3 linked regions of the Homo sapiens genome follow. The protein of the gene in region 3 purifies or fractionates together with the protein of the main gene of each other region. This does not show direct contact. Each region holds a gene or a part of one and is shown on either strand. Other genes may lie near its edges. The genes, in order: ALG9, PRXL2A and GLT6D1.

The links.
Region 1: the proteins of GLT6D1 (region 3) and ALG9 purify together in Homo sapiens (affinity purification with mass spectrometry; one large-scale study listed by BioGRID and IntAct). This does not show direct contact.
Region 2: the proteins of GLT6D1 (region 3) and PRXL2A purify together in Homo sapiens (affinity purification with mass spectrometry; one large-scale study listed by BioGRID and IntAct). This does not show direct contact.

What each region holds. Positions count from the first base shown.
Region 1 is NC_000011.10:111,833,565-111,837,217, reverse strand, and holds part of ALG9 (alpha-1,2-mannosyltransferase ALG9), read left to right. Parts: intron 1-923; coding exon 924-1,053; intron 1,054-3,653. UniProt on the Homo sapiens protein: Mannosyltransferase that operates in the biosynthetic pathway of dolichol-linked oligosaccharides, the glycan precursors employed in protein asparagine (N)-glycosylation.
Region 2 is NC_000010.11:80,418,462-80,422,114, forward strand, and holds part of PRXL2A (peroxiredoxin-like 2A isoform 1 precursor), read left to right. Parts: intron 1-1,538; exon of another isoform or gene 1,539-2,004; 5' UTR 2,005-2,006; coding exon 2,007-2,184; intron 2,185-3,653. UniProt on the Homo sapiens protein: Involved in redox regulation of the cell. Acts as an antioxidant. Inhibits TNFSF11-induced NFKB1 and JUN activation and osteoclast differentiation. May affect bone resorption and help to maintain bone mass.
Region 3 is NC_000009.12:135,623,056-135,626,405, reverse strand, and holds the end of GLT6D1 (putative glycosyltransferase 6 domain-containing protein 1), read left to right. Parts: intron 1-199; coding exon 200-337; intron 338-981; exon of another isoform or gene 982-1,021; coding exon of another isoform or gene 1,022-1,074; intron 1,075-1,200; coding exon of another isoform or gene 1,201-1,308; intron 1,309-1,735; coding exon 1,736-2,309; 3' UTR 2,310-2,758; downstream 2,759-3,350.

The sequences.
Region 1 (3,653 bases), on a different chromosome or scaffold from region 3:
GAAAATGCCCTGGGTCCTAGGCTTTTGCCAGTGGCTCTTCGTGGGGATTCATATTTACATTTCTATAATGATCTGATGTTAATCCTCTTCTAAAAGTGGTCTAGAAACTCCAGCTAGAAGAGAGAAGACATTCTTGACCCAACAGTAGTGAAAGTTCTCCACCATTATGTGGACACTGGGGAAGGCTGTGGTTAAAATGTCTATACCAGTTTCCTTTATGCTTTCTGTGGTTCTGAGAGCATAGGCCCTAAAGTTCTTTGTAGTTTGCTTCATTTGGCCAGAGAAGAGTCCTGTGTAGGTTAAAGGGAAATCTGGTTAAGATGAGTCATGTTGCTCCATTTGAGAAATGGCTTCAGTAGCTTGGCTTTACTGGGTAGTAGTTTCTTATGCTTCATAAAGACCCTGTGTCAGTCATTAATGATTAAATTAAAACTTGTTTTTTAAGTGTTGACTTTAGCCTTTGCCTTTTACGTTTGAAATAGTTTTATAGATAAAGATATGTTTGAGGGTTACTCCGGAACAAAGTATTTCTCCCATAGTGTGTTCTCAGTGCCATATATTACATTTCATTCTTTTTCTCTACACCTGATAATTTGCTTTATTTGATAAGTCTCTCTGCCCACATAGTAATTGACAATAAGCATTGGCACTTCTCTGGTTTTTTGATGATATGACCATTTGGTTGTGAATTTCACTGCTAACAGTTGGTGAAATGGGTCAAGAGACATCTAATTATAAATTTCTCAATGATTTTGGACTGACTTGTGACCTCTGCCTCTGTGCTCCCTGGTTGAGGTTTTAGCAGAAATATTTTTTCTTCAAGAGAAATGTTTTTCACATGATTTTCCTGGCTTGTTTGTTTCAAGTACATTTAGCAATATTATCCCCCTGTGTTTTTCTTATTCTCCTTGTGTTTCTGACAGTTGGCAGCTTCAGTTCATTCCATCAGAGTTCAGAGGTCAGTTACCAAAACCTTTTGCAGAAGGACCTCTGGCCACCCGGATTGTTCCTACTGACATGAATGACCAGAATCTAGAAGAGCCATCCAGATATGTAAGGGCTACATTCTCTTCTTGCTTCTCTGAAAAGAATTCTATGCCTAAAAGTCTGTTGGTGTGTATATTAGAGCATTGATAAAATGAGAATTTCTTAGAAAGCAATTTTTTTAAGGCCGGGTGCTGTGGCTCACACCTGTAATCCCAGCACTTTGGGAGACGGGCGGGATAATTGCTTGAATTCAGAAGTTCGAGACCAGCCTGGGCAACATAGCAAGATCACATTTCTACAAAAAATTAAAAAATAAGCCAGGTGTGGTGGCTTATGCCTGTAATCCCAGCCTTTCAGAAGGCTGAGGCAGGAGGATCACTTGAGCCTCGGAGTTCAAGGCTGCAGTAGGCCATGATTCCGCTACTGCACTCCAGCCTGGGCAACAGAGTGAGACCCTGTCTCAGAAAAAAACCGGATATTTTTTAGGATGAGGGGTATAACAGCTTTTGTTGAAAAACAGTAAACAGTATCACTTTTATTTTCAAATTAACCTCTTTATTTTCTATGTAAAATGTATAATTTAATTTTGAAGGTTTTGGGTAGGCTGAAAGTTTTCTTACGGTAGAAGTTTGAACCATTATTCTGAAACTCATATCATTCCTTGGCCTATTAAAATCCTTAATGAGGAACTTTCAAGTTATCAGGTGGACCTTTGACCTAGCTATTAGTATATTCCGGTTTTAACAAATGAACAGTAAAGACTGTTTCCATACTGAATGCCAGGGAGCAGCCTCTGTCAGGGCCATGATCTTCTCCCTACTTGTCTTTACACATTCTGAGATCCCATGCGAATTTTACTTCAGTTCCTTTGAAAGATGACACTTTTGACATTTGATACCTGTGAAATCTTTGATAATGAAAAAGGTAAGAAGTAATAAAGATAATGCTCCTTTTGGGTCACAAAGACAGTGTAAGATCGTTGTCTAGAATTATTAGAAAGCACATTTTTTGATAACCTGATAACCTGTCCGTTAAAGAAATATGTAACAGTTTAAATGTCAGCTATATTTAATTTACATTTTCTTATGTCATATGCTTAAAATGTAAAATAGCAAGACTTCCAATTCTCTTCTGAAGCAAACCTGCAGCCACATCTGGTCTTTTGTCTCCCAGATTGGGGCTGGTTAGAGTTCCATGGAGACCCTCAGGGTTTATGAGTGAGATTCTTATTGTATGAGCTGTAACTATAAGCTATGAAAATGGACACTTAAAGACACAGCCTTGAGCTGTTCCCTTGTAAGACAGGCGTTTCTGCCACATGGATTGTATTAGAGCTTTATTCTTTTAATTTAAGGCTCTGATTCCTGTTACAATGGAAATACCCTTGGGCAGGGTAGACTGTTACAGGTCATTTTAATTTTATCTGCAGATATGAGTCTCCTGAGTGCAGGGCATCATTCTAGAGAAGCTGGACAGTCAAAGGGTGGGAAAATACACTGTCATAGGGGGACAGTATGAATTCAGAGTGATGTTATCGGAGCTTTGCTTTAGGAAGAGGTAGTAAAAATGGAGTAGTAAAAAAAAGAGCGTGGACTTTGGAGTTGAGTAGGCCTGCATTCAAACCTCAGCTCTGTTGCTAAACTTGATAACCTTGGGCAAATTAGTTAGCTTCTCTGTTTAATTTCAGTTTCTGTCTGTAAAATGGCACCTACTTTGGAATTATGATATTTGATATTATATCTCTCTGTAGCAAAAATGCAATGTTCTTATGCTTGCACAAGTGTTCTTAATCTGATAATGGTATATTAGACAGATTCCAGGTAAAGAAACCCAATCTCTCCCCTTCCTTCTTTTTATTGTTTCCCATCCTTGTAATTTTATTCCAGTGTCTCCAGACTCATCATTGCGTTTTCCACCCCAGTGACTTCGCTTATATTGGTGACTATGCCTGAACTACCCTTGTGTCTCTTCTCACACTATCAAAATTATCTTCCTCTTTGAAGTGAACTATTTAAGTCCATATTGAGCAGACCTTCCTTTAAGTGTCTTCAGTATTTATCTGTGCAGTTCATTTAGCCATTTAATTTTCTTGGTCTTAGTTAAATATTTCTGATATCATATCTTTCCACATCAAATATGTGAATGCCATGAAGAGAATGACTGCACTTTGTTTCTTTTGTGTTCACCATAGTGTCTAGGACGGTGTCATGTACCCAGTAGTTCACTTTTACATGCTTTCTCAGTGGATAATGAATATTCATCGTCATTGTGGTAATGATGTTGAGAGAAAGCTGGCTAGAAAATCTACAGTGGCCTTTTGCACATTTCTTAGGCTTTTATCACTGGTTGTCTTAGTTAGATCATATTTCCATATTCTCTGCTGTCAGACAGTGTTAAATTTGATTAAATGACTCTATATGAGCTTTACCCGAAAGGTGATGATTTTTCAGGATGCCAGTAGGAGTCACCAAAATGCTGGCTGATAAAAGCAGGGAAAAACAAGTGATTTATGTCTGCTGGGTAGCAGCTGTGTCCAGCCCTTTGAATGCGAGGATTTTTTTGCTTATCTGTGGTGGCAGAATCATGAAAATTAGGCATGGACCTTTAGCTCTGGGTGGCAGGTTTTAGCCAGCCTTTGGCTTCAATGCTAAGTGCTCCAGCCTGTC
Region 2 (3,653 bases), on a different chromosome or scaffold from region 3:
CACCTCATGCAGTGCACCCCTCACAGCCCCCACCCTTGGCAGTGACATTTGGATTTCCAGGGCCTTTCCTGATCCTTTAGAGACATCCTCTCCCGGCCAAGTCCTGCAAGGGAGACTTGAGTCAGAGGTTCGATGGGCTGGGGTGAGGTGGGCCACACAATTACCACACCCACTCCCAGGCCTATTCCCGGTGATCTAAGCACACAGAAGCAGGCTGGTACTTAGGGAAGAAGGCACCAGTGTATGCCAGAGCTTAGGATGGCGTGAGGACCAAATGGAAAGATAGATATTGTAAGTGGTTGTTGGGAGAAGGAAGGCTGGAGGTGGGGGTACTTTGTGGGCTGCTTCCAGGAGCTCCCACCCACAGGCACAAGTCTTCCTAGCTGGCAGAAGAAGCCAGGAACAAGGCTGAATTCTGACAGAACCCGCCTGGAGCTCCATTTCAGTTGCAGAGACCTTTATCTTATGCAGCTGTCTTTTGCCCAGCCTCCTCTGCAGATGCCATAGGACCTCCTCTTTCTTTTCTTTTCTTTCTTTTTTTTTGAGACTGAGTCTTGCTCTATGACCAGACTGGAATGCAGTGGCACAATCTCAGCTCACTGCAACCTCCGCCTCCCGGGTTCAGGCGATTCTCCTCCCTCAGCCTCCCAAATAGCTGGGATTATAGGCATGCGCCACCATGCCCAGCTAATTTTTGTATTTTTAGTAGAGACAGGGTTTCACTGTGTTGGCCAGGATGGTCTCCATCTCTTGACCTCGTGATTCACCTGCCTCGGCCTCCCAAAGTGCTGGGATTACAGGCATGACCCACCGTGCCCTGCCAGGACTTCCTCTTTCTTTTTTTTTTTTTCTTTTTTTTTTTTGAGACGGAGTTTCACTCTTGTTGCCCAGGCTGAAGTGCAATGGCACGATCTCGGCTCACCGCAACCTCCGCCTCCCAGGTTCAAGCGATTCTCCTGCCTCAGCACCCCCGAGAAGCTGGGATTACAGGCACGCACCACCACGCCCGGCTAATTTTGTATTTTTAGTAGAGATGAGGTTTCTTCATGTTAGTCAGGCTGGTCTCGAACTCCCGACCTCAGGTGATCCGCCCACCTCGGCCTCCCAAAGTGCTGGGATTACAGGCATGAGCCACCGCGCCCTGCCAGGACCTCCTCTTTCTGATATAACACCTGCATTTGTTTGGCAGACATCTGTGTAGTTCTGTTCACAGGAGAAAAAAGTCAGATTACTAAACACCAGTGTTTAACAGTGGCCATCAGTAGGTGGTAGCTTCAGAGAGTATTTGCTTTCTTATCGACTATGGTTTCATGTATTCTCTGTTTTGTTTTTTACTATAAGCATATTTTGTTTTTATATAAGGGAGAAATAAAGCTCTTCTCAATTGGGAGAAATTACTGCCTGCCTATAATGAATGAGGCCCTGCTGGGCACTGGCTGGGGGCTTGATGAGTAGGATATGGTCCCTGTTTTTGGAGGGTCGTCAAACTAAAGAGGAAAGAAGATAGGGGAACAAAACAGTGCGGTTGGTGTTCTAAGTATCCTCTGATCACAGAAGAGAAAGCTGCCCCTACCCAGGGACATGATCCTGAGCCACCTGGATTGTGAGGGAGAATCAGGCATTGATGAGGAGGGGAATGAGGAAGTAGTCTGCCTACAGGGGACATAGCTCGGCACAGCTCCACAGAGCTAGGGGCTGCAACTTGGGGCATGAGAAGAGAGAGCAGCAAGAGAACCATTTGAGAAGGCTGTCCTTTCTCTGTCATCACTCCTGATGCCCTGGTGAGCTCCACGGTGCAGGAACCTCCATGTGTGTGCTGCATCCCCAAGTTCTGGTGGCAGCAGGTGCTTAGCAGCCCTTGTCCAGTCTCGCCTGTGACACTGCTGCTCCCTTCCCCTGTCCTGACCTCCTGGTTGGCTGTCCTGCCAGAGCCTTGCCTGGAAGATGAAATTCCAGCTACCCTGTGGGAGCAGTAACGCCTTCTTCCTTCTTCTCAATCTCCAGAAATGTCTTTCCTCCAGGACCCAAGTTTCTTCACCATGGGGATGTGGTCCATTGGTGCAGGAGCCCTGGGGGCTGCTGCCTTGGCATTGCTGCTTGCCAACACAGACGTGTTTCTGTCCAAGCCCCAGAAAGCGGCCCTGGAGTACCTGGAGGATATAGACCTGAAAACACTGGAGAAGGGTAAGTGGTGACCCTTCAGGTCTCAGTACTTTTCCAAGGAGCTGGGATACAGGCTTACTGCTTTCTTTCTAAACTCTCTCCTTTTTTTAATTGAAAAGATAATATAACAACATTAGGAAAAATTTAATAACAATTTTTAAACTAGGAATAATTCTGTTACCCTAACACAGTAATTTTGATTTTGGCATATTCCTTTCCATGTGTACATATTACGTAGTTGTGCTTGGCTTAGGTGCTGTTTTACATTTTAGCTTTTCTTATCAAAAGCATTTCTCATTCTCTGTTGTTGTCTCTGTAATTATAATGATAAATTGCTCCATAATATTTAGTAATAATTACAATCTTTTACTAAACCAGTGCTTCCAGAGTGTATTCTGAGGAATTCCAGGCTTGTGGGATCGTCAAACTAAAAGGAGTTCCTGAGTGAACAAGTATGGGAGACACCTTTTATCCAATTCCATGCTCCTGATGCTCAGCACAGACATATGCTTATTAGAATGAGGTGTCTGGATTGCTGCTGATTCAGGCATGGCCAGCCCCTCCCTGTGAAGAAGCTGTGGTGTCTGAGGAATCACTTCAAGGTCACCCGTTAGAGCAGACCTGCCTATCTCCCTCTTCTGGGGGACTGCTAGAATCCATTGTGGACAGCTTAGAGCCACACACCCAAATGTGTTAGCTCTGCCTCCTTGCTGTGTGCTCTCAGTGTTAGAGCTGTAGCTTGGTGGGATTTCAGTCATGCCAGTGGTGTGGCAAGAGAGTTGGAGTGGTGAAGGTCTCATTGATGGCGTGGTCACCATGTTAGCCCCCCAGGTGGAAGTCATCGTCATCTGTTTAGTAAGTAAGGAAGCTTGCGAAAGGAAGGCAGGAGATTGTGCAGGTTTATAGTAGGTCACCTTAGTAAGATACTAGGAGAGAGAGAGACCTGTTAAGCTTTGTTCAACCCAGGGTTTCCCAATCTTATTTGATTACAGACTCTTCTCCCCACCCTCTCACCCACCTGACCCCATTTTTTTTTTTTCCACATAACATCTACGGGAACATGGATCCCTCTGGGAAATACTAAAATAATTAAGGGCTCATATTTATTGAGCCCTCACCAACTCTATATTACCAGACATTGTGGTGAGCACTTTTATATTCATCTTTCAATATGCCCTGTGGCCCAAAGTGGAGCTACTAGATATTTGCATTTTACAAATGAGGAAGCTGAGGTTCAAAGAGCAAAAATAACTTGCCCAGAGTTACACAGCTAGATTCAGATTCAGTTGGACCTTAGAGCTGGGCTTGTTGAACTACAGTACTGTACTACCCCAAAGCATTTTATTCCTAGGCATCTTCTATCCTCTCCTTCGTTAATAATATTGCAGGTAACATATTTAGGTTAAAAATTTGAGACTTTTTCAGTTTGGGCCATGTTTCTGTTCTGAAGGATTATTATACAATATCTGATGACATCAGCAATAGACAAA
Region 3 (3,350 bases):
CTGCTTCCCCACGTGGAGATCAGGGGTGGTGGCACTCATTGCATAGGGCGTTGCAAGGATGAATCCAGTGGGATGATGCACTCAAACACGGAGCTGGGCGCGCACTAGGTGCTCTCTAAGCATTAGGCATTACTGCTCGGCACCTGCTGCCGGCGCCTCAGTAAAGCACTCCCTGTTTAACTTGGTTCTTGTTCCACAGAAAACGCCCTGATGTTATAACGAAAACAGACTGGCTCGCTCCTGTCCTATGGGAAGGGACTTTCGACAGGCGGGTCCTGGAAAAACATTACAGAAGGCGGAATATCACTGTGGGCCTGGCCGTCTTTGCTACTGGCAGGTAGGTGCCACTCACCTTTGCCCTTTTTTATTTTGGGAAAATGTGGATCAGCATTCACGAGCCTTTAACCTCCAAAGAGCCAACCATAATTAAGCATAATTAGTGATAACAATAGCCACGATTTCTGGGGAGAAACAAACTTACCTGTCCAAACCCAAATAAGGGACTCAAAGACCTGGAGAACAGTGAAAGTGAGACTTTTAGTGACAGTCTTGCAAGATCGGATGTCTGATGGGCAGGCACACCCAGCACAGTTTCAACTGCAATTTATCCCCTAGTGCACAGGTCCCTCCCTCAGTTCCTCATAGGCTGAGTACTTGGGGTCACAATCTTCCCAGACGTCGCCTATTTGTTGTTGGGCAGGGGCTTTAGGTGTTTTCTTTAGGGTGGTCTTGCTGCATTTTGTTGCAGCCCACAATGCATTGCAATCCTAGTGAGCTCAGGGGCTCTTCAAGTATCTGACTTATGACCTAAGTAGCTGAGCAGGCTGATAAGAACAGACAAAGTGAGCTATTTTGCAGACTAGTAAAGTTTTATCTTAGACTAAACTTTTTTGGTTTGGGTGAGGGCAACTAAGGCAGGAGGCCGACAAGCAGGCATTGGCTATTTAAGTGGGGACCTAGTATATCCTGTTTCTTTTGTAGTTTGCTGACCTGAGCCGATTTAAGGCCCTTTGTCTTGGAGATGGTCTACTATAGACACGATTTCCTTCAATTTCTGGCTGTCCTGTACAAAAGGTGTGCTGGGTTTCTCTGTCGATGGCCGAGTCCTTAACACCAGTGGGAACCTTTTGACTCATACCCATTTAGCTCCTGCTCCCTTTCTTCACAACAGCCATTCCAAAACATGGTGGCTTTTCTCAGGCCCTCCAGGTCAGGACATTCCTTCCCACTCACCAACTCAGCTGAAGCTGTGGGCCCGACTCCTCCACGCTTGTACATCCCGAGTTCCTTAGCATCAGACACACCCATGTGAGTGCATTCAGCCGCCTCTTCTCCTGATCATGTTTAGAAAAGTAAGTGTCGGCCGGGCACAGTGGCTTATGCCTGTAATCCCAGCACTTTAGGACGCCGAGGTGGGTGGGATCACCTGAGGTCAGGAGTTCGAGACCAGCCTGGCCAACATGGTGAAATACCATCTCTACTGAAAATACAAAAAAAAAAAAAAAAAAATTACCTGGGCGTGGTGGCAGGTGCCTGTAGTCCCAGCTACTTGGGAGGCTGAGGCAGGAGAATTGCTTGGACCCAGGAGGTGGAGGTTGCAGTGAGCCGAGATCACGCCACTGCACTCCAGCCTGGGCATCAGAGGGAGACTCCATCTCAAAAAAAAAAAAAAAAAAAAAAAGAAAGAAAAGAAAAAAGAGAAAAGTAAGTTTCTTCCCCACTGTGTGTTTCCTAGGTTTGCAGAGGAGTACCTGAGGCCGTTCCTACACTCCGCAAATAAGCACTTCATGACAGGCTACCGAGTGATCTTCTACATCATGGTGGACGCCTTCTTCAAGCTGCCTGACATAGAGCCCAGTCCTCTTCGAACGTTCAAAGCATTTAAAGTGGGCACCGAGAGGTGGTGGCTCGATGGCCCCCTGGTGCATGTGAAGAGCCTGGGTGAACACATCGCCAGTCACATCCAGGACGAGGTGGACTTCCTCTTCAGCATGGCTGCCAACCAGGTCTTCCAGAATGAGTTCGGGGTGGAGACCCTGGGCCCGTTGGTGGCCCAGCTCCACGCCTGGTGGTATTTCAGAAACACCAAGAACTTCCCTTATGAGAGGAGGCCGACCTCAGCAGCTTGCATCCCGTTTGGACAGGGAGATTTCTATTATGGCAACTTGATGGTTGGTGGCACACCCCATAATATTTTAGACTTCATCAAAGAATATCTGAACGGAGTTATTCATGACATCAAAAATGGACTCAATAGCACTTATGAAAAGCACCTTAACAAATATTTTTACCTCAATAAACCCACCTAGCTGTTATCACCAGCATACAGCTGGGATCTTGCATTTTCTCCTCCTCCACAGATCCAATACGTCAAGGTCGCACATGATTCCCAGAGGAAATTATGAATTACGCCATGAGGTTTATGACGAATAAATGAATCACGGCAATTTCTTATAAATGAGGGAAGTCTTAAGACCTTCCATTTTTTAGAGACATACAAATTTACATCCTTCCCAAATAAATGTTTCTTCTTGCCATTTTGAGCCATCTTATTTGGCTAATGTAGGATAAAGAATAAAAGGATAATTACTTAATGTTAATACACAGTAATGTTATTATCTATGTATTGTAGACAATGTGAAAATACATTTGACATAGAATGAATATTTTTAATGGAGAAAGACTCTAGTTGAGAAAAAACATTCATAAAATGGAAAAGTAGTTCACGCAAAGGAAAAAATAAATGCCAGGCCACTCACTGAGTAGTCACTGTGTTTTTCCACACTGGGATATGTGTGGCTTGTGGTCGACCTCGCCTATTGTCTCAGTCTGTTCGGTGTGTGATTCGACACAGGTGAGCTAGAGGAATCCAGCCAAAGCCACGTCTTACTATTACGGTTTCAAAGTGAGATATTCAGTTCCTTTTGTTAAAAAGCTATAGATATTGGCCGGTTGTGGTAGCTCATGCCTGTAATCCCAGCACTTTGGGAGGCCGAGGCAGGCGGATCACCTGAGGTCAGGAGTTCGAGACCAGCCAGCCTTGCTGACATGGTGAAACCCCATCTCTACTAAAAATACAAAAAATTAGCTGGGTGTGGTGACGGATGCCTGTAATCCCAGCTACTCAGGAGGCTGAGACAGGAGAATCGCTTGAACCTGGGAGGCGGAGGTTGTAGTGAGCCGAGATTGAGCCATTGCACTCCAGCCTGGGTGGCAAGAGTGAAACTCCATCTCAAAAAAAAAAAATCTGTAGGTATTTTATTTTTTTAAAAAAGATATTTACTGAGCTCAGCGGTAAAGGTGCTCTGCCAGATGCAGACAGGGATAGAAAAGAGTTTGGAACACCTGTG